Linked DNA regions of Homo sapiens: region 2 is linked to region 1. Evidence: fine-mapped expression QTL. A gene starts in region 1. The other region holds a variant in brackets. All regions are shown on one strand. Distances are from middle to middle.

Region 1 (9,680 bases):
AGTGTCGACCTAAGGAAATGGTTTTCTGAGGCCCCTGCCCTGCGTCCTTAAAGTCCAGGAACATTTGGAGATGCAGAGTTCAGACTAGTATTATATAACCAATGCGGCACTTGCTAAGCCGAATCTTTCACTACATTCTTACTGAGACAGCTTCGTTATTACCTTCATGTCATGAATGAGGAAACTGAGGCACAGAGAGGGTGCTAACTTGCCCAGGATTGCAAAGCTGGTATGTCAGCTCTAACCAGACAACGTGCTCCAGACCACTCACAGCCTCTTCACTCGAAGGTCTCTAGCTGTGTCCCAGCTCAAAGCCAGGCCATGCTGGCCCCCTGAACCGGACCCTGTGCTTTTCCTACCAGCTCCTGCTCCATCACCAGTGAAAGCATCTCCTGGCTTAGGAAAGTCTCAGGAGGAAAGGGCCGAGGACTCCAAGGAACAATCAACCAATCTCCTACCTCCTCCTCCTCCTCCTTCAAGGCTCCTTCTTGTGCCCAGTGGGGTGGAGAGGCCACATTAGAATTCTCTCTCTGACTTAAATAACAAGTGGAAGAATTTCAATGGCCTCACAGGGCCTCGGGATGTCATCAAGGCAGCTAGAAAGAAGGGGATGCTTCATTTCCAGAACGGAGGGGCTGAGGCTGTCTCTGGAGGCCAGGGCTCAGGAGCTAGGGCAGGCCTGAGCCTTCGATTCTTGGCATTTACTCTGCTGCTCTGACTATTTTCTTCTCGCATTCATGGTTTATTATTTATAGAGCGGAAGGCGTGTGGCAGCTCCTTGGCAGGTGGGATGTGCAGGAGAGAGGCCAGAGCCGCGCCCCAGCACCCTCCCATCCGCCCCCAGGGAGCCAAGGAGGAGGCTGGGGAGTGGGTGTGAAGAGTGCACGCTGTGTGTGTGGGAGGAGGAGAGGGGTCTCTTAGGAAGGTGTGAGCTGGGCAGAGGGAAAGGGGGAGGGGTGATGGGGGGGTCTTTGTGAAGTAGTCGCAGTTGCCATCTATTACTGAGTCACCATCTCCGCAAGGCACTTGACATATGTTACCTCCCCTCCCTATAACTCCCAGGGAGGAGGTATTCCTAAATCCATTTTCCAGATATGGGGACTGAGACTTAGAGATGTAAAGTCACTCTTAGGAGGCCCTCTCCTAGTTGGTGTCAGAGCCAGGCTTCTAACCAAGTGCTCTACGTTCCATATTGGGGGAGAGGGCAGGCAGGAATGAGAGTCACTCCTCTCTCTGGACCAGGATGACTGGTCCAGATGGGGCATCCAGCCAGGCATGGTGACTCATGTTGTAATCCCTGCACTTTGGGAGGCCGAGGCAGGTGGATCACTTGAGGTCAGGAGTTCGAGACCAGCCTGGCCAACATGGTGAAACCCCATCTCTACTAAAAATACAAAAATTAGCCGGGCGTCGTGGCACAGGCCTGTAATCCCAGCTACCGGGGAGGCTGAGGCAGGAGAGTCGCTTCAACCCAGGAGGCGGAGGTTGCAGTGAGTCGAGATTGCACCACTGCACTCCGGCCTGAGGGACAGAGCAAGGCTCCGTCTCAAAAAAAAAAAAAAAAAAAAAAAAAAAAAGATGGGGCAGCCCAACAGTTCTTCCCACCATAACAGCTCTTTCCACCATATCTGTCACTTAATTGTGCTGACAAGGTGCCTCACAGTGATACCCTGGGCTGAGAGGATGGAGTGGAGAGCCAAGAAGGCAGGATTCTAGACCCTTCTCTTTAAACCAGAGCAGCTCCTCCCTTTCACCTGCTTTATGTATTGAACTCCCACCTAAGATCTGAAATGAGGCTGAATTTTATGAACCAAAGCATGGGGCTGTACAGATGGCAAGTTTGTGGACTGGGTCTTGTATGGGGGAGGAACAGGGCAGGTAGGGCAGGGCTGTGGTGGGGTCAGAGGCTCCAGCAGCCACCAGTGACCCTTCAGCACAATGGGGCATCAAAGGCCTGGGAAGTCCCTGGCCTCCTAGTTTGCAAGGAGGCAGCTTCCTCCAGGAAGGCCCTGGAAATCAACCTCAGGCCAAGCACAGGCTATTGCTTCCAGGGACTCAGATCCTAGGGATTTCCTTCAACTTCTCAGGTCCCCAAAGGATCCAGAACGGGGATGGGCTCTCGGGAAGTCCCACTCCACAGAGGTGAGTGGGGATTACCACGTGGACCCAGAAAAGATGTGAGAAACATCAGGTAAGTCCAGGCCTCTCTGTGTGCCCTGGAGTGGGTAAAGGAAAATAGTGATGAAATGGTGTCAACCACAGACAAGCAGCTGAGGCCAGGGGCGGGGGTGAGAGCGTATGTGAGATGACCAGGTGGTGTGTTGCTGAGAAGTTCTCAGAGAAATGATGGACTCATGTTAGGCAGAGTCTAGGTTGTTGACCTGGTTGGGATGATGGGGAAGAGATTGAAGTATCAGTGAAATATTAACACTATAGCCTTAAAAATCCCTTCAAATTCGATTGGGTCCAAGCCACTGTCACCTCTCTGCATAAACTGCCTCTTAGCAGGTTTTCCTGCACCCACTCCTACTCCTTCCACTTCCAGGGAATCAGCCCAGGTGCTCTTCCCAACTCAGATCTCATCGTGTCTGTCTCTCTCTCTCTCAAACTCACGTGCACACACACACAAAAGTGCACACAGACACACGGGTTAAAATGCTTCCATGGCTTCTGTTTATTCATCTCCTGTAAAAACAAAAGCTCTCTAAGGGTGTCTGAGGTCCGGCCTCTGTGTGTGTTCCCATCCACCGTACACCACCCTCACTCATCTCTGCTCCCTCGGCTCCAGCCACAATGACCTTCTTTTCTTTCCCCTGTTTGCCAGCCTCCTTCCCTTTGCAGAGGTGGGTTTCTCTGCCCTGAACTCTCTTCCTTCCCTCTTTCACCTGGGCTGCTCTTACTCATCCTTCGGGTCTTGGCTAAAATGTCACATCTCCAGAAAACCTTCCCTTACTCCCTGACTGGGCCAAACACCTTCACAGAAGCGGCTCTCTATAACTGTGCACCTCTAAGCCACAGTTGACATTTCACGTTTGTGGAGATCATCAGATGAATGCCATCTCTTGCCTTCCGCTGTAAGCCCCAGGAGGGCGAGGACCCTGTCTGCTTTTGCCCACCATTCCGTCCTCAATCCACAGTGCCTGGCATGCAGAGATGCTGGTACATTTTTGCTAAATTAATGACGGTGGACTCATGAAGTCACAACGTGCATGGGTTCACATACACGGAGATGGGACTCAGGTCAGGGGGCTGGGCTGCAGAGGGCGCTGATGTAACTGGAAGGCAGTGTCCCGTGGGGAGCTGTCAGGCTAGGAGATGGATGGGGTTGGAAATTAAGATGCTAAAGAGCTTCGCACACTCGCTCCAGCAGGCTGGGCTCCAGCCCTGAGGACTGGAGGATTCTATCTGATCATGATGAGACAGAGACAAGGGCAGTGGGGGCTGAGCGGGCTGGTCTAGGAGCCCACTCTCTCCCCCATCAATCTCTGCCTGGAGCCAGTGGAGCCAGGCCAGAAGGGGAATGTGCTGAGCCAGATTTTGCACTCACCTGGGCCAACATACCATCTTGTGGCTATAAACAACCACAGCATTGAATATACACGTGAACACAGAACATTTAGGAACCAACTTTGAGCCAAGCTCTAGAGATGCAGACAGCGAACATTTGCAAACCTCGTATCTCACAAAACCTCAACATTGGAAGGGAACTTTGTGGCCATTTAATGCTATTCCAAAGCTTGAATCCCTTTTCTAAAATCTCCCAAAGGAGCACTGGATGGTACAGCCTTTTTACAATACCTGCCCACTGAAGCCTACCAGGGCTTGCCCAGCACACAGAGCAAAAAATCACCTAAAAAGTCACATCTAGCCACCTTTCCCTCCACACCCTCGCATAAACTTCAACATTTCAAGCAAGCAGGTTTGCATGCAGCTTCAGCCCACAGGCACACAGGATTCTCCTTTGACCTGCTTGAACTAACTCCTGACAGTCAGTGGATTGCTGCCTCAAATGCAAAGACCCATTGTCTGAAAGAACAGCATAAGATTGGAGACCCGCATGCCAGGAAAGAAAACCTTCGAGGTTTCTGCCTGTATTTCCTGGTGCCCACCAGTGTGTGGAAATGACCACAAGAAGGACAGGACCTGCATTCTTCCCCAGCCATTGTCTGCTCCACAGCCCTTTGTGTGCGTGTGTGTGTGTGTGTGTAGGTGTGTGCTTGCAGGCGGTGGGGGCTGAGGGGATGGTTGCACCTTCCTGGCTCTTAAGCAACTCCTAGGATGGGTTACATGGCACAGGGTCAGGGAGAGGTAGGGAACTTACACTTTTTGACAAAGGGGAGCATTTCTGGATTCCTGGGGAGGGAGCGGCACTATGTTCAGAAAAGCTCCTTTTCTCCTTGGCCACTCTTCCCTTGGGCCTCTGTTTGTTTCCTCATCAAGGGGCAGTTCCCTCTTTGTCCTCCCCTTCAAGAGCAGAGGGCTTCTCCCTTGCCCTTCTCTCTCTCACCATCTCACCCATCCATGCCAGAAGGAAATTCCTCATTCTAAAACAGATCCAGTTCTCTCTTTCCCTCCCGGCCACCAACTTGATCAACCTGCCACCACCCCCTTGTCTCAGTGCCTTCCCTTCCCTATTCCTGTGCTGTCTTGTCTTTTTGAGACCCCGAAGACTTGACTGAGGGGAATTCGAAGATGTGGGAGGGGGTCTGCCTGTTCTCTTGTTGGGGAGATGAGAGCAGGGAGGGTGGAGATGGAGCTCCTGAGCCCTCCCTCGGTGGAGGGCAGTGCCGGGGCAGGGACCCTACTACTCCGAGCGTGTGTCTTGAAACCAATCTCAACCCTGGAGGACGAACTGGGAAAAGAATTCACCTGGGTGAATTTAGGCCCTAGGTGGGGGTGGCAGAGGCCAGTCTTTAAGACTCGGCTCCACAGAAGAAACTGTTTCCCCCAGGAGCAGAGGAGCTCAGGAAGCTGGATGGTAGCACCGAGGCAGGAGGGTGAAGACGGGATACCAGGCAGCCCACCCCGCCAGGAACCTGAAAGGCCACAGACTCACCCTACAAAGTAGGAGATGATCAGAAGCTGAACTACTCGGTTGATGATCCCGATGGTCCAGCTCTTCACAACCACCGACTTGGTGGTCTCATAGGTGAAGAAGTCGGATATGCAGTTCATGCTGAGAGAGTGCTCAGGGGACACTCAGAAGGGGGCCCAGTGGTGGCCTCAGGAGAGGGAGGTCCTACAGGACAGGGAGACGAGATCACGACCTGGAGGGGGCAGCTTAGAGGGGTTGGAGGAATGGGGAGCCTGTCCCTTTAAGCCATGCAATCCTAGTGAGATTCTCTGCTCTTGATACTCTGGCTTCCAAGAGGCCAGGACCAGGGCGGGGGACCCCCTTTTTGTTCGTCTCCACTCCACTCCCCTGTGATGTCACAGCAGGGGTGGGGTCTCCAATCCTGGGCTCCTGATTGCCTGGGATGTAGCTGGCTGGAGCCCTCTGGGACTAATGTTTTATCTGCACTCTGTCTACTGTTTCTGTTCTGTTCTCTTCTGCAGCATCCTCATCCCAGCTCACCAGCTGCTCACACTCTCCCTAAAGCCCCTTGCAATTTCCCATCCCCCAGTCACCTAATAGCCTGCCTGAGCTAAGGACCCTCTTCATTCCTGAGTGTCTGCCAAATTCCACCCAGTTCTGCGCCGTCCCCTCCTTTCCTGAGTTGCCCCCAGTGGCATGGGTCAGGGGGAAAAGGTCTCTTGAAAGTTTTTCTGGGTCTTCTGGGGTGTGATGAGTAAAGAGTCACATATTTCTAACTCCAGCTGGTAATGAGCTTCGCTCTACCTGTAGCATAGCAGTTAGCACGTCTTTTTTGTTTTGTTTTCTTTTTATTATTATTCTTATACTCTAAGTTCTATGGTAAACCTGCACAACGTGCAGGTTTGTTACATATGTATACGTGTGCCATGTTGGTGTGTTGCACCCGTTAACTGTAAATATACCCGTCATTTACATTAGGTATATCTCCTAATGCTATCCCTCCCCACTCCGCCCACCCCGCGACAGGCCCTGGTGTGTGTGATGTTCCCCACCCTGTGTCCAAGTGTTCTCATTGTTCAATTCCCACCTATGAGTGAGAATATGCGGTGTTTGGTTTTCTGTCCTTGTGATAATTTGCTCAGAATGATGGAGTCCAGCTTCATCCATGTCCCTGCAAAGGACATGAACTCATCCTGTTTTACAGCTGCATAGTATTCCACGGTGTATATGTGCCAACTTCTTTTTTTTTTAACTGTCACTTTATTTATTAAAGTCATTTGTTAGATTATGTTTTCCTGAAAGGTTGGGGCTGGGTTTTTTTTTCTGTTTTTTTTTTTTTTCTTTCTTTCCTTCCCTTCCTTTTTTTTTTCTTTTTCTTTCTTTCTTTTTTTTTTTTTTTTTGACAGAGTCTCGCTCTGTCACCCGGGCTGGAGTGCAGTGGCACAATCTCAGCTCACTGCAACCTCTGCCTCCTGGGTTCAAGCAATTCTCATGCCTCAGCCTCCTGAGTAGCTGGGATTATAGGCACCCGCCACCACGCCTGGCTAATTTTTGTATTTTTAATAGAGACGGGGCTTCACCACGTTGGCCAGTCTGGTCTCAAACTCCTGACCTCAAGTGATCTCCCTGCCTTGGCCTCCCCAAGTGCTAGGATTACAGGTGTGAGCCACCGTGCCTGGCCGGGGATGTTTTCACCTTGTTCAAGTTTCCTCAAATCTGAGAAGTGTGCTAAAGTAGTAATAGGCCCTCAATATCTATTTATTAAACCCAGTTGAATTTATTTTGCTAGATAATGCTGGAATAGCCACTACTCAGAGGTTAAAGCTATGAGTTCAGGGGAGAAGGGTGCATTCCTGTTGTCTCTTACCCCAGGATTGATTTAGCAAGCTGGTGTATTGATTGTCAGGGAAATCTTGAGCTTACATATTCTGTACTAATGTCTTCATGTAGGACACATATCAATAGTCATTCTGAACATACAGTCACTGTGATTATGACAGAAGATAACTGGACTGGTGGTGTTAAGGAGGTCTGGGTCCTACCTAGCCTTGTTGCCAACGCACTGAGACCCTGGGCAACTCACTCCCCTTTGGGTCTCAGTTTTCCCATCAGTAAAAGGAGGTTGGGGTAGAAAAACTAAAACATCTTTTCCAGGTCTGGTCTCTGATGTTGCAAAATGCACTCTGGGATTATACGGGGGAGACCTGGCTTCCGCAACCACAGGATGATGTGGTTTCAAATCAGTTCTGGCTCCAAGGTGAATCTGACACCAGGACTTGAACTGGATAAGGCCGTTTGCCAGCCTCTTGGAGGTACCTATAATTTTCGGTTAAGGATGTGAAAATTTTGGGTGTAGACAGTGAACTTGACAGTTCAGCCAGAAAGCAGTGCACCCACGATGACACCAACACCCGCATACTCTCCGCAGCCAGTGGGAGAGGTCGTTTCCTCCCACAACTGTTCAAATACTTCTCTTCTTGTCCCATCGACTCCTTTCCATGACATAGAAACTATTTTGCAGAGAAACGGGCACGCATCATTCCAATACACACCCCCACCCCACCCCTGTACTAAGTCTGATACAATAAAACTACACAATTTCTCTTTAGTATCTAGTCTCGACTGAAGAAGTGTCTGTAGTTTCTAAAGAGCCCTACACACATTTTCTAGGCCGGATTCCCCCTGGGTGAGAGAGGCTTCACGGCAACCACCCTTCCCTCAGGTCCTCCAGAGTCGCTGACGCTCTATGCGACTGTCTCGCAGGCGGGCCCGACTCGCGTCTCTCTAGCCAGCTCATCCTCTCTGTGGCCTGTGTACGGCTTCCGGTGGCGGGACGCGGGGCCGCGCACGCGGGAAAAGCTTCCCCGGTGTCCCCCCATCCCCCTCCCCGCGCCCCCCCCGCGTCCCCCCAGCGCGCCCACCTCTCGCGCCGGGGCCCTCGCGAGGCCGCAGCCTGAGGAGGTAGGTGGTGGTCGTCCCCGGTCCCAGGAAGGCAGGGGCCCCGCTCCCCCACGGGACCCTCGACATGGACCATTCCGCGTTCGCAACCGCGGGGAGCGGGCGAATCCATTATGTGGGGCGGGGGTGAACCGTGGGTCTGGGGCCGCGGGGTGGTGGGAGCGGTGCGAGGGAAACCCTGCACTCTGAGCTGGATTGGGTCGCGTGCGATGTGCGGGCTCCTGGCAGACCCTGGGGTTCCGCTGCTCGTTGCCATGGCTCCCGCCGGAGCGGCCAGAGCGGGCGTCGGGTTGGGTGTCAGCGGTATTCCGGGCCCGGTTCTCCACCCAGGCCTGGACCTGGACCCTCGGGCACTGCAGCGTCCGTCTGTAGGTTTCCAGGCAGAGGAAATCCTGAGACATCCAGGCGCAGCTGGGAGTTGCTACCTGGCTCCATCCGTGAGCACAGCGAGGTGCTGTCTTTCATGCTTATCTGTCTTCCTCTTGAATTCAGATTCCCAACCTGCTGAGCATCCGCACACCCACTCAGGAGTTGGGGCCCAGCTCCCAGTTTACTTGGTTTCCCTTGTGCAGCCTGGGGCTCTGCCCAGGCCACCACAGGCAGGGGTCGACATGGCAGAGACACTGGAGTTCAACGACGTCTATCAGGAGGTGAAAGGTTCCATGGTGAGAATGGCTTGGACAGGTGATACAAGTAGAGAGAAGGAAGGAGGGTAGAGTTTTTGTCCATTAATGAGAGCTTGCTTTGGTAACGTTATTTTGGAAAAAGAAGACTCAGTATAATGTGTACCTAGTGTCTCCACCAACTCAAGGCAATACTGAGAGATAGTCTCAGAGTTATAGGGACCGTATATGCTGTTCAGTTCCCAATTCCTGTTTTACAAATGAGGAAACTGAGAATCTGTTAAGGGTTCTAGATACCAGAGTCTGGTTTAGAATCTAGACTCCTTGGCACCCTCAGCTGTTGCTCCTGCATTGATAATCTGGCCAGTCCACTTGCAGCAGGAATGTGTGTTAGGTAGAGCTGTAGAACCCAGGACATGCTGTGTACTGTCTCCATGCATCTGGGCCTGCTTTTCTTACAGAATGATGGTCGACTGAGGTTGAGCCGTCAGGGCATCATCTTCAAGAATAGCAAGACAGGCAAAGTGGACAACATCCAGGCTGGGGAGTTAACAGAAGGTATCTGGCGCCGTGTTGCTCTGGGCCATGGACTTAAACTGCTTACAAAGAATGGCCATGTCTACAAGTATGATGGCTTCCGAGAATCGGTGAGATGTCCCATGGCTATAAGCCTCCTTTTTACTGCATCTTCTTATTTTAATCTTCTAGAGACTCGAGGTTCCTTCCTCATGTAACCCTGTGATTGCTAGTTTGGGCTCCTTAGAGCAGGGCTGTGAGGCCATCAGGCAATCAGTGTTTGGCTTTGAGCGTTGAAGTCTTGTGAATTTCTGTGTGCCTTGACTCCAGAAGATTTTCTTCTGTCTTGATTTAGATAGTAGTTTCTGCCTGTGGCTTTTATCAAGGTTCAGAATCTTAGCTTGATTTCTTTGTGTGTATGTGTGTTTTTGGTTTTTTTTGGGGACAGGGCCTTGCTCTGTCACCCAGGCTGGAGTGCAGTGGCGCAATCTCGGATTACTGCAGCCTCCGCCTCCTGGGCTCAAGTAATCCTTCCATCTCAGCCTCCT
Region 2 (9,680 bases), 56 kb before region 1:
AGGGTCTTTTATTTTTTTATTTTTTTATTTTTATTTTTTAACCAGGGTCTTTTAACATCCGAGGACCACATTCTTTGTGCTTTCCAAATCATCACCTGCCCCATGCAACTTACAGGGTAAGTTACATTAAACAACGTATGTAAATGGCTTTGTGCTAGTTATTCACCACCACAGGGGAAGTGAGTCACGGACAAGAGTGCAGCCGCTCCATTCGGATCCTGGCTCTGACACTTACCTGGAAAATGACTTAACCATTCCCAGGATCAGCTGTTTGTCTGTAATTTAGGTAGTTTAATGGCACTTGTGTCCTAGAGTTGTTTAGAAGGTTGAATAATATGGAGCACTTAACATACTTAGCACCTAGAAACACTTCCTAAATATTAGTTGCTGCTGTTGTTATCGTTATTAAAATTTCTGCCTAAGATCTCATTTCAGGGAGCCCAACTCAATCTTTGACAAGCTTAAACAAAAATTGCTTTTCTTCATTTATTCACTTACACAGCAAACATGAATTGAGCCTGTACTGTGTTTCCAGAACTGTGCAGGACCAGAGAGGCACAGGTGAAGGAAGCAAGGCTCTGGCTCTACTGGGGAAACAGCAAGAAGATTGCTACAATGAGGTGGGAAGAGGGCTGGACTAGAGAGAAGCCCTGATTAGTGTCCTTGCTACCTTTCTCTGGGAGAGCCAAGGCAGGCTTCCTGGAAGAGGTGATCCTTGGCTGAAACTTCGATGAAGAAAAGGAAAGAGCGCAGTGGTTAGGGAGGAAAGGGCATTCTGGGCAGATGAAATGACATGTGACAAAATATGGGTGATCATGGCATGTTAGGAAAATAGCAGGGTGTTCAACATGATTGGAGCACTGTGTGTGTGTGGTGAGGGGGAGAATTGAGGTTGTCAAGAAGTGGTTCTCAACTGAGCATAGTTTTGCCTCAGAGGGGACATTTGGTAATGTCTGCAGACATTTTTTGATTGTCACAGCCCAGCCGAGAAGGTACTACTAGTATCTTTTTGGTAGAGGCTAGAGAGGCTGCTAAACATCTAACAATGCACAGGACAGGCCTCTGTAACAAAAAAGTATCCAGTCAAAAATGTCCACAGTGTTGAGAGGTTTAGGTAAGTAGGCGCTAAAACATAAGGAGACTGTGCCTGAGAGCAAGAAGGAGTAATTGGAAAGTGCTGGTGTGATTAGCTCTGGGTTTTAGAAAGCTCATTTTGGCTGCTTGTAGACAGTGCATCAGAGGTGGAGGAGGGTGGTAAGACTGGAGGCAGGGAAAGTAATTTGGGAGCCACTGAAATGATCCAGGTGAAAAACGGTCAGCAGGTGACTAGGAAAGTGGCAGAGGCAATGGGGATGGGTGGCTGGATGAGATGGTGAAGAAAGCACTATAACTAACTAATGTGTGGATGATGGGCAGGAGGGGTGAAGGATGACCAGAGTCCTGCCTTGCAGGTCTAGTTGGAAGGTGATGGTTTCTCCTGAGAAAGTGACCACAAAAAGTGAAGCAGGTTTGTGCGTGTGTGTGTGTGTGTGTGTGTGTGTGTGTTGAGTTCAGTCTGAGATGTGTTGGACTCACAATGTCCATGGGACATCCAAGTGGAGAAGCATCTTGGGTGACCATATGTGTGAGTCTGCAGCTCAGAAACAGGCCTGGGGCTGGAGATGAAGACTTGGGAATGATCTGCGTATATATTTGGTAGCTTGAGCCACAAGAGTAGATGACATAACCCGTGGTGGGTGTGCAGAATTAGGAGAGACGTGCACCAAGAAGCCAGGTGATCCCCAATATTTAACCATCTGGAAGAATAAGAGGAGCCTGCCAACAGAAATTGGGAGGGAATGGCCACAAAGGCTACTGAGAAGGGAAGCAGTTCTTAAGAAGGGGGAAGTGAAGAGGTATCACTACTGCAGAGGTCAAGTAGGATAAGAACTGAAGAATGTCTGTTGGGTTTGGCAATGGGGTAGTCAGTGGGCACCTGGGCAAAAGCAGTTTTGGTGGAGCAATAGGGATAACAGAAACAAGACTGCTATGGTAAGAGGAGGAAGAGGGTGTTGAGGAAGTGGCCAGCGAGTCTACACCACTTGCTGGAGGAGCTTGGCTTTGGTGCAAAGCAGAGAAGCCAGCTCACTCATTGACTTAACCTCCAAGAAACACAAAATCATCCATATCCTGGCTCAAATTCCAGCACTACCAGGAGATGGTTGGCCCCTAGAAATGCCATCCCACTTCTCCTCTGCTTATCCTATCCTATCTGTCAGTCTGTTGAGCCCAGGCTAAGCGCTACCTCCTCAAGCAAGCCTTCTCTGCCTGCCGTCACACTTTAAGTGATCCTGACAACACTGAAAATGTGTGTCTCTTCCATTCATGTTAGTTCTACACTTCTGAGTATCTCCTCAATATATTGCCTTGTTTTACTAATATGCTCGTTCTGTTTGCCTTATTTATCAGCTACCTTAAACCTCCCTGCAACTAGAGATTCTCTTTAAGTATTTGTTGAATAAATGAATGAATCAATCGATGATCCAGAGCCTGGTAGAGGCTTGTGTCCATGGTGGATGAGGCTCAGAAAATACCTGTAGAATCGAAATAAATGCATGTGTGCTCTGATCTAAACTCAGCTAAACTTTCTCCAGGGGGTAAAGTTCAAGTTGATTAGTCAATTGATTAATTAATTCATTATGTAATGGAAAAACTCCTTCTATGACCTGGGCAGAGTTATAGGCAGTGAACAAGACAGACAAGGTCCTTGTTGTCATGAAGTTTGCTTTCTGAAGGAGAGAGATAATAAACAAGAAACCAGTAAGAAAGCAAGATTATATCATTTTGGTAAATGTTCTTGTGGAAATAAATGTGATGATGTGTAACAAAAGTACCAAATAGGAGAGTGGGGTGGGTGGGCTTCTTTTAGAAAGAGTTCTCGGAGAAGGCTTATCTGAGGAGGTGGCCTTTTAACCAGTACAAATGCTTTAGCTTGGCCAGTGGAGCTGGGACCAGGATGACAAGGGTCACTTGTCATGCCAGTGAGTTTGAGCTTGTAGACAAGAGCCTGATCATGAAAGACTTTGCAGATGGTGGTAATGGGTTTGGGTTAATTGCTACTATGTGGGAAGACTTTGAATGGGAAGCATGGGGACAATGGCCTGTGATACATGTTATCAAATATGGTCGCAGGGGCTAGTGAGGTGGCAGCAGAGATAGGGAGAAGTAGACGGACTGGGGAAGGTAGAAGATGGGGCAGGGGAGGCAATTACTGCAAAGACATATTCCTTCTAAGCTCACTGAGTGTTCATGGTCTCTGGGAGCAGAGGTTCCTGGAGGGGAAAGAGGATAATGTCACTTCCTGAGGAAGCGGGAAGAACCCATCTGAGACGTGGGGACTGTGCTGGTTCGTTTCTAAGGGGCCTTCCAGATCTCACATGCCAATCGTCTTGGTCTATGTCAATTGTTGGGGCATCCAAATGGGGAACTGTTGTCCAGGCCGATTTCACAGAACAACCGCCCAGTCCATATCTCCCGAGCCATTCACCCTTGCAGTGGCGTTAGCTCTTTCACCAGCTTTTATCTGCCCCGTGGGGATGTTGGCCAAGCCCAGTTAACAAGCAGTTGATCAGCCCCAGAGATCAGGTCCCTGGAGTCTGTCACTTTTCTGAGGGTGGGGAGAGAATCCTGGAGCAGAACATGTAACTAGAAGGGCCACCTGGCTTCCTATGGTCTGAGGGAGAGAATGGTGGGATCTCTGGCCTGAATCAAACCTCCCTTTCTCAGTGTCCATCTTACCTCTCTGCTGTACCTTCGTTATTTTCCAGCAGCTCCTCAGCCCGTTCCTGTGGGACCCTTCTCTGCCAATCCCTACACCCACTGTAAATTTCACCGTGGGAGGGAGATGGGCCTTGAGGGCTGTATTAGTCTTCTATTCTGCATAACAAATTGCCTCAAATTTAGCAGCTTCAAACAACTCATGTTTATTAGCTCATCGTGAGTTCATCAGCAGTGTGGGCCCAGCATGGCTAGGTTTTCTGCTCAGGGTCTCACAAGGCTAAAATCAAGATGTTGTCTGGGCTGTGTGCTCATCTGGAGTTTAGGGTTCTCTTCCAGGCTCACGTGGTTGTGGCAGAATTCTGTTCCCTGGAGTTGCAGGGCTGAGGTCCTGTTTTCTTGCTGACTGTCAGATGAGGGCTGCTCTCAGGTCCTCGAGGCTGCCCACATTGCTTGCCACGTGCGTGGTCTTTTCCATCCTTGAAGCCAGTGATGGAGAATTTCCCTTGGATTGAATCACCCACATGGTTGGACTCTCTGACTTCAGGAAGAGAGCCCTGTCTCTTTTATGGGATCACCTGATTAGATCATACCCATAGAGGGCAGTTCCTTTTCCTTAAAGTCAACTGTGGCATGTAACATCACACAACCACAGGAGTAAAATCCATCATATTTACAGTCCCAGGGATTATGCACAGTGCACCAGGGGACAACTGAATTCTGCCTGTCAAAAGGGCCAAGCAGGACTTTATTGGTGAAGAACAGTGGAATGTCATTCTTGGTTCTTCCAGAAAAAAATCACTCAGTAAAGTTAGAGGTTCTCTTGCCTTTTGGGAAGTCATCAAAGAATCTCATGGAGGGTTTGGACCTTCACCCTAGAAACATCACACCATGTTTTCTATAATTGCAGGGTTCATGGTCCCTTGAAGCCTATTCATAGTTTCCAGGTTGAAAAGCTCTGCTG[C/A]AGGGTGTGGGGAGGGATGCAGGTGGAGGTGAGGGCTGAATAGTGTGAGCTGCATATCTGGAGCTGTGGTGGTTTTTTTAGTCTTTAAGCTGTCATGTGTTGGGGGTTGGGCATGGGAGGGGCATCCCAAGAGCTCCTTGGTATTGACACCATCTCCAAGGTGATCTCTGCTCTGCCTGGTGCACACATGTTTTTCTCCTGTTGCAACAGCCCACTCTTGTAGAAGAGCAGACCCCTCAGTACCAGGTCTGACCCTGGACAGCTTGTACCAGGAGCTACAGCACACTCCCCCACAAGCCTAAAGTTGGGATGAGCCCCCCGAGAATTAGATCAGAAAAGATTAAATGCAGAGGTGATCTGTCAGGTCCCCTTTGGAAGTGCTGGTATGGAGAGGATTGACTGAGTCTGTTTAGGAACCTCCAAGCTCTGTAGTAACTTTAGGGCTAGAAAGGAGGATGCCTAAGATTCAGGATCCTGCAGTGATGAGTCAACATTTCTTGGGGAAGGAGGCAGGGCTGAGGATTAAACGGAGATGATGGGTATCGTTCTCTTGCTCAAAGGCACTGGACCCCAAGGCCTCCAGCTCTTCGCTCCCATTTGAAATTCAAGTCCTGAGCACACCACAGTTGTGATGCAGGGAAAGAATGTGCTTATCAGAGAGCCTGGGCAAGTGGGCCCCTTGTGAGTACCGTTCAACCTCATTTATGTCATTGGCACCAAAAGTAGACATCAGTCTCTTGAAAGTTTGATTAATGCTGGTCACACTCAAAGACCCTGGGTAGCATTCATTTACTAAGCAATTACTAAATACCAGTTTCTGTGCTAAATGCTGCATCAGTCAGGGCTCTTAATGGCAGGCAGCAGAAACTCTCCTTGGCTGATCTAAGTAGAAAAATCCAGGACTGAAAGGAAACGGAGTAGCTCATGAAATTGCAGGAAGGGCCGGAAAACCAGACATGGAGCCAAAGTCAGGCTGCAGAACAGGTCTAGGGAGGATCCCACTGCTGCTGAGACCTAGACCTTGTGTCTGGCACCCAGGATGTTGTAGGGCTCAGACCCTGGATCAATGTATCCTGCAGTGCCTCTGTGGGTACTGCAACTCCAGGAACTCAATCTTGTCAACGCCACCGCCAGAGAGAGGCCTTCTTGGCCTCCATCTTTTTGGTCACTAGCTCCAGATTCAAAATCTTGAATAGATGCTTCTTCTCTTTGATAGAGCCCAGTCATATGCGTTAGCTGCAAAGGAAGCTGAAAATCTATTAGGAACTTTTGTCTTCAAAAATGAGAGGCCTGTCCTCCACCAAGATCCATAGGAAATGGAATCCAAGAAACCACAGGAAGGGGTGAGGTGACTGGGCAGCTCACAGCATGCATGCTACATGTGAATTATCTCATTCATTTCTCACACTACCCAGTGAGGTAGGTATTGTCATCCCTACTTCATAAATGATGATATGAGGTACAGAAAGTTTAAGGAACTTGCCCAGGACACGACACGCAGCTATTAAGTGCTAGACCCAGTCAATTTGAGTCTGACTTGGACTGTCTGACTCCAGAAGCCACCCTCTCAGACACTGCTGTATACTTCCAGTGAATGTTGATGAAATTTTCAGGGTTGCTAAGCTGTGGATTTCAGATCCTGGATTGTATGACCTAAAAGAGAGACTTCCCTAGGAGTGAGGGTCCCTGAACAGTCAACTGGTTTCCAAGAATGGGCTCCCTCTCATCACCTTATGACAGTAATCCTCTGTCCAACAGCCAAAGAGGTCCTGTGGGGAGGGCTTGCAGATGGGAGTGCGCAGAGCCCAGCTCAAAGCTCCTGACTAGGCTCTTGTTGAGTATTCCTTTGATTCCTGCTTCTGTCTTTTTAAATCAATGGAGACAGGGGAGGGTTATCTCCATCCTCGGCTCAAGATGAAATGCATCGTTCCTCGTTTTTCTCATTCCTTCCCAATGTGTGTACTGTTAACTTTAGTTATGAAGGAAATTACAGTGTCCTGTGCATATACCAAGGCTGTCCAACCTCCACACCTTTGCTCAAGCTGTTCCTTCTACTTGAAATGCCTGTTTCCTTCCCTTCTAATTGCATCTTTCCATCCAGGTAGGAATCAGCTCCTTGGTTCATGGAGCCTTTTCTGCTCTGTTTTACTATGCATGGACTTCCTTCTGAATTAGCAGAGGATGTTTCCTAGCTTGGTCTTAACCCTTCTCCTTTTGTTTGACCTCAATTTACTCATCTTACAAATTAGGTTGTAAGCTAATTGAATACAGGATCTATGCTTCACTCTGATTTTATCTCCACCTGGATAGCATCATTTTTGACACACAAGCAGGCATATGGGAGGGGAGAGAAGTTTGGTGCCAGAAAGAACTGGATTTGAATTCTAACCCTGTTGTTTACGTGAGTACGTTACTTAACCATTAATTACTTCAATGTATATTTATTAAGTACCTACTATGTGCCGGGCACTGTACTAAGCACCAAGGATACAATGGTGAGTAAAGAGATGCAGCCTTCACCATCACGAAGGAAGACAGATGTTAATCCATTAACCAAGTAATCTCACAAGAAAAGTAAAATGACTAACTGATAAGGACAAGCCCCTGGAGCTACAAGAGGGTGTATACAGGGCATCGATCCAATAAGGGCAGTGTTGCGGGGAGATCAGGAGCCACACAGAGCCTGGGTTGTCTCACTTGGAAAATGGGGTATCAACCACCTACCTCACTAGGTTTTTAAAATCAGGTTAAATGAGGTAATACTTGCCATGAACAGTATTTTGTTGATTGATGATTGATTGAAACGGAGTCTCACTCTCTCGCCCAAGCTGGAGTGCAGTGGTGCAATCTCAGCTCACTGCAACCTCTACTTCCTGGGTTCAAGTGATTCTCCTGCCTCAGACTCCCAAGTAGCTGGGATTACAGGCAGCCACCCCTATGCCTGACTAATTTTTGTATTTTTAGTAGAGACAAGGCTTTGCAATGTTGACCAGGCTGGTCTCAACCTCCTGACCTCAAAAGATCCACCCACCTCAGCCTCCCAAAGTGCTGGGATCACAGGCATGAGCCACTGCATCCAGCCACTTGCCATGCATGGCATTTAAAAATGTTCAGTAAATGTTACCATAATGAAGGCTGGTAGGTTGGCCAACTGAGTGGTCTGATTCAGAAGGAAAGAAGTTAGACATACGTGAACATTTCCTGTACTTGAAGATCCTCAGGACAGTGACTCCTAGACCCATCTTCCATCACAGTCAGCTGGGAAGCTTTTAAAAAAATGCAGACATCTGACCTTCACGCTAGACCTATTAGCCAAGCAGAAGTTTCTGGGCAGGGCATCTGCATATTTTTAAAAATCTTTAATAAGGCAGCCTCAAAATTACAGATTCAGCACGCATTTACCATAACCACTGAAGAAATGCAAAGTTATAAAAAGAAGATAAACAACAATCTGTCTCCTGCTTTCTTCCCTCTCCTCCCCTGCTTCTGGAGGCAACAAGGTCAACTATTTGGTGTGATTCCTTTTAGCATTCCCTCCATCAATGGTCACATAAGGATGCTCACAGATAAGCACCTATGCGGGGGTTTTTTTTTTCCTTGTAAAACTATTCACATACTAAATACTTTCCTCAGTATCTTGCCTTTTTTCACTTCATGTCACAGAAACATCTCTTCAGGTTTATAGATACAGGTCCAGCTCTTCTTTTCATAGCCATATAACATTCTGTAGAATAGAGAGGACACATTTTACTCAGTGTCCGATTGATGGATATCAATATTGTTTTCATTTCTACAAATAGTCAAGGAATAACATAACTCTGTAAAAGTTTTATTACTTATAGGCGCATTTATGCCTAAAGGATAGTCTCAAAAGAGTGAAACTGATCAAATGTGCATTTTTTTATTTTAATAGGTATGGACAGATTTGTTCTCAAAATGTTTGTGGCAGTTCAAAACACCAGTAAAACAGGGGAGATATGTATTTTGGAAAAGCACCCAAGGCGATTCTGAAGTGTAGCCCAGGATAAGAACCATTGCCCAGAGCTGTTCCAGATGGCCCCTGGGTTCCTGAAGTGGGTATCGGGAGAGAAATCTTCACTGAATGAATGAGTGGGCTCCCCAGGGAAGTGATGAAATGGTCCTTATCAGCCTTGCTATCTCCCTCTGACAGAGGCAAACTCTCTCTCCCTGGGGGAAGTTCCTCCAAGGCCTCTATATAAGAAGTCTTTGTGAGAGGAAGCAAAGAAGGACCTGGGCTTTGGGAAGATCTAAAGACCCAGGAAGGTCTCTGGGTGGGTGAGTGCTTTCTCTGCTGTGGTGGAGCTGGTGACAGTTTATTCTCCCAGGAGGTCCCTGGCTGTGGCTGACAGTTTCTGGAGGGCTGGCAGGCGTCTACCTGTGGCTTTCAGGTTATGAGGATGTCAGCAGGGGCAGCCTTCATCCTCTGCCTTGCACATTCCTTCTGCGGGATGTGAAAGTGCTCCTTGGCTGGGGAAAGGAGATGGTGGAGACATGGAGGAGGGTGTGGGTGGCTTCTTGAACTCTGAGGAGGGGACATACCTTCTAAGTCCTATGTGTTCCTAGGAAAGCCAATAATCATTGCTTCTCCCGCCTTTTTTATGTCATAGACTCTGAGGGACCCATTAAGTACAAACAAATAAGCGTAATAGTCCCTTCTTTACTTCCGGGCCTGAAGGAAAGCCAGCCTCAGCCACCCCTCAGGGTTTGCTGCGTTCTGTTTAGAAAGAGGTCCTTGCGTCCTGGATCCTGGAGCATCAGGAGCTGGGCTTGGCATGAGCTTTTCTGGCCCATCCTGATTTCTATTCAGGCCTTCTTTTTCTCCACCTCACTCCCACGGTCCCCTAATGGTGTGATTGTGATGTGTGTGCATGTGTGTCTGTGTGTGTCAATGACAAACTGTGTTCTCCGTTGCAGGATAAAGCCAAGATGAAACTCCCCT

Direction of the effects. Positions count from the first base shown, and alleles are read on the strand shown. Sizes are in standard deviations (SD) of each study's normalised expression.
As copies of C replace A in region 2, the expression in left ventricle of the gene that starts at base 5,374 in region 1 goes down (moderate effect, 0.53 SD a copy in GTEx).

What was found.
Region 2: its variant is fine-mapped to the expression of P2RX3 in left ventricle (GTEx, PIP 0.92).

The regions. Positions count from the first base shown.
Region 1 is chr11:57,334,046-57,343,725 of GRCh38, reverse strand. It overlaps P2RX3 (purinergic receptor P2X 3), which reads right to left and starts at 5,374. Exons shown (of 12, transcript NM_002559.5): 1 at 5,057-5,374. The coding sequence starts at 5,175. It overlaps SSRP1 (structure specific recognition protein 1), which reads left to right and starts at 7,834. Exons shown (of 17, transcript NM_003146.3): 1 at 7,834-7,996; 2 at 8,486-8,658; 3 at 9,078-9,263. The coding sequence starts at 8,605. RefSeq lists enhancers at 7,696-7,745, 8,596-8,665 and a silencer at 7,916-8,095.
Region 2 is chr11:57,389,932-57,399,611 of GRCh38, reverse strand. PRG2 (proteoglycan 2, pro eosinophil major basic protein) reads left to right here and starts at 8,962. Exons shown (of 6, transcript NM_002728.6): 1 at 8,962-9,016; 2 at 9,656-9,680. The coding sequence starts at 9,668. The variant C/A (reference allele first, on the strand shown) is at 4,721.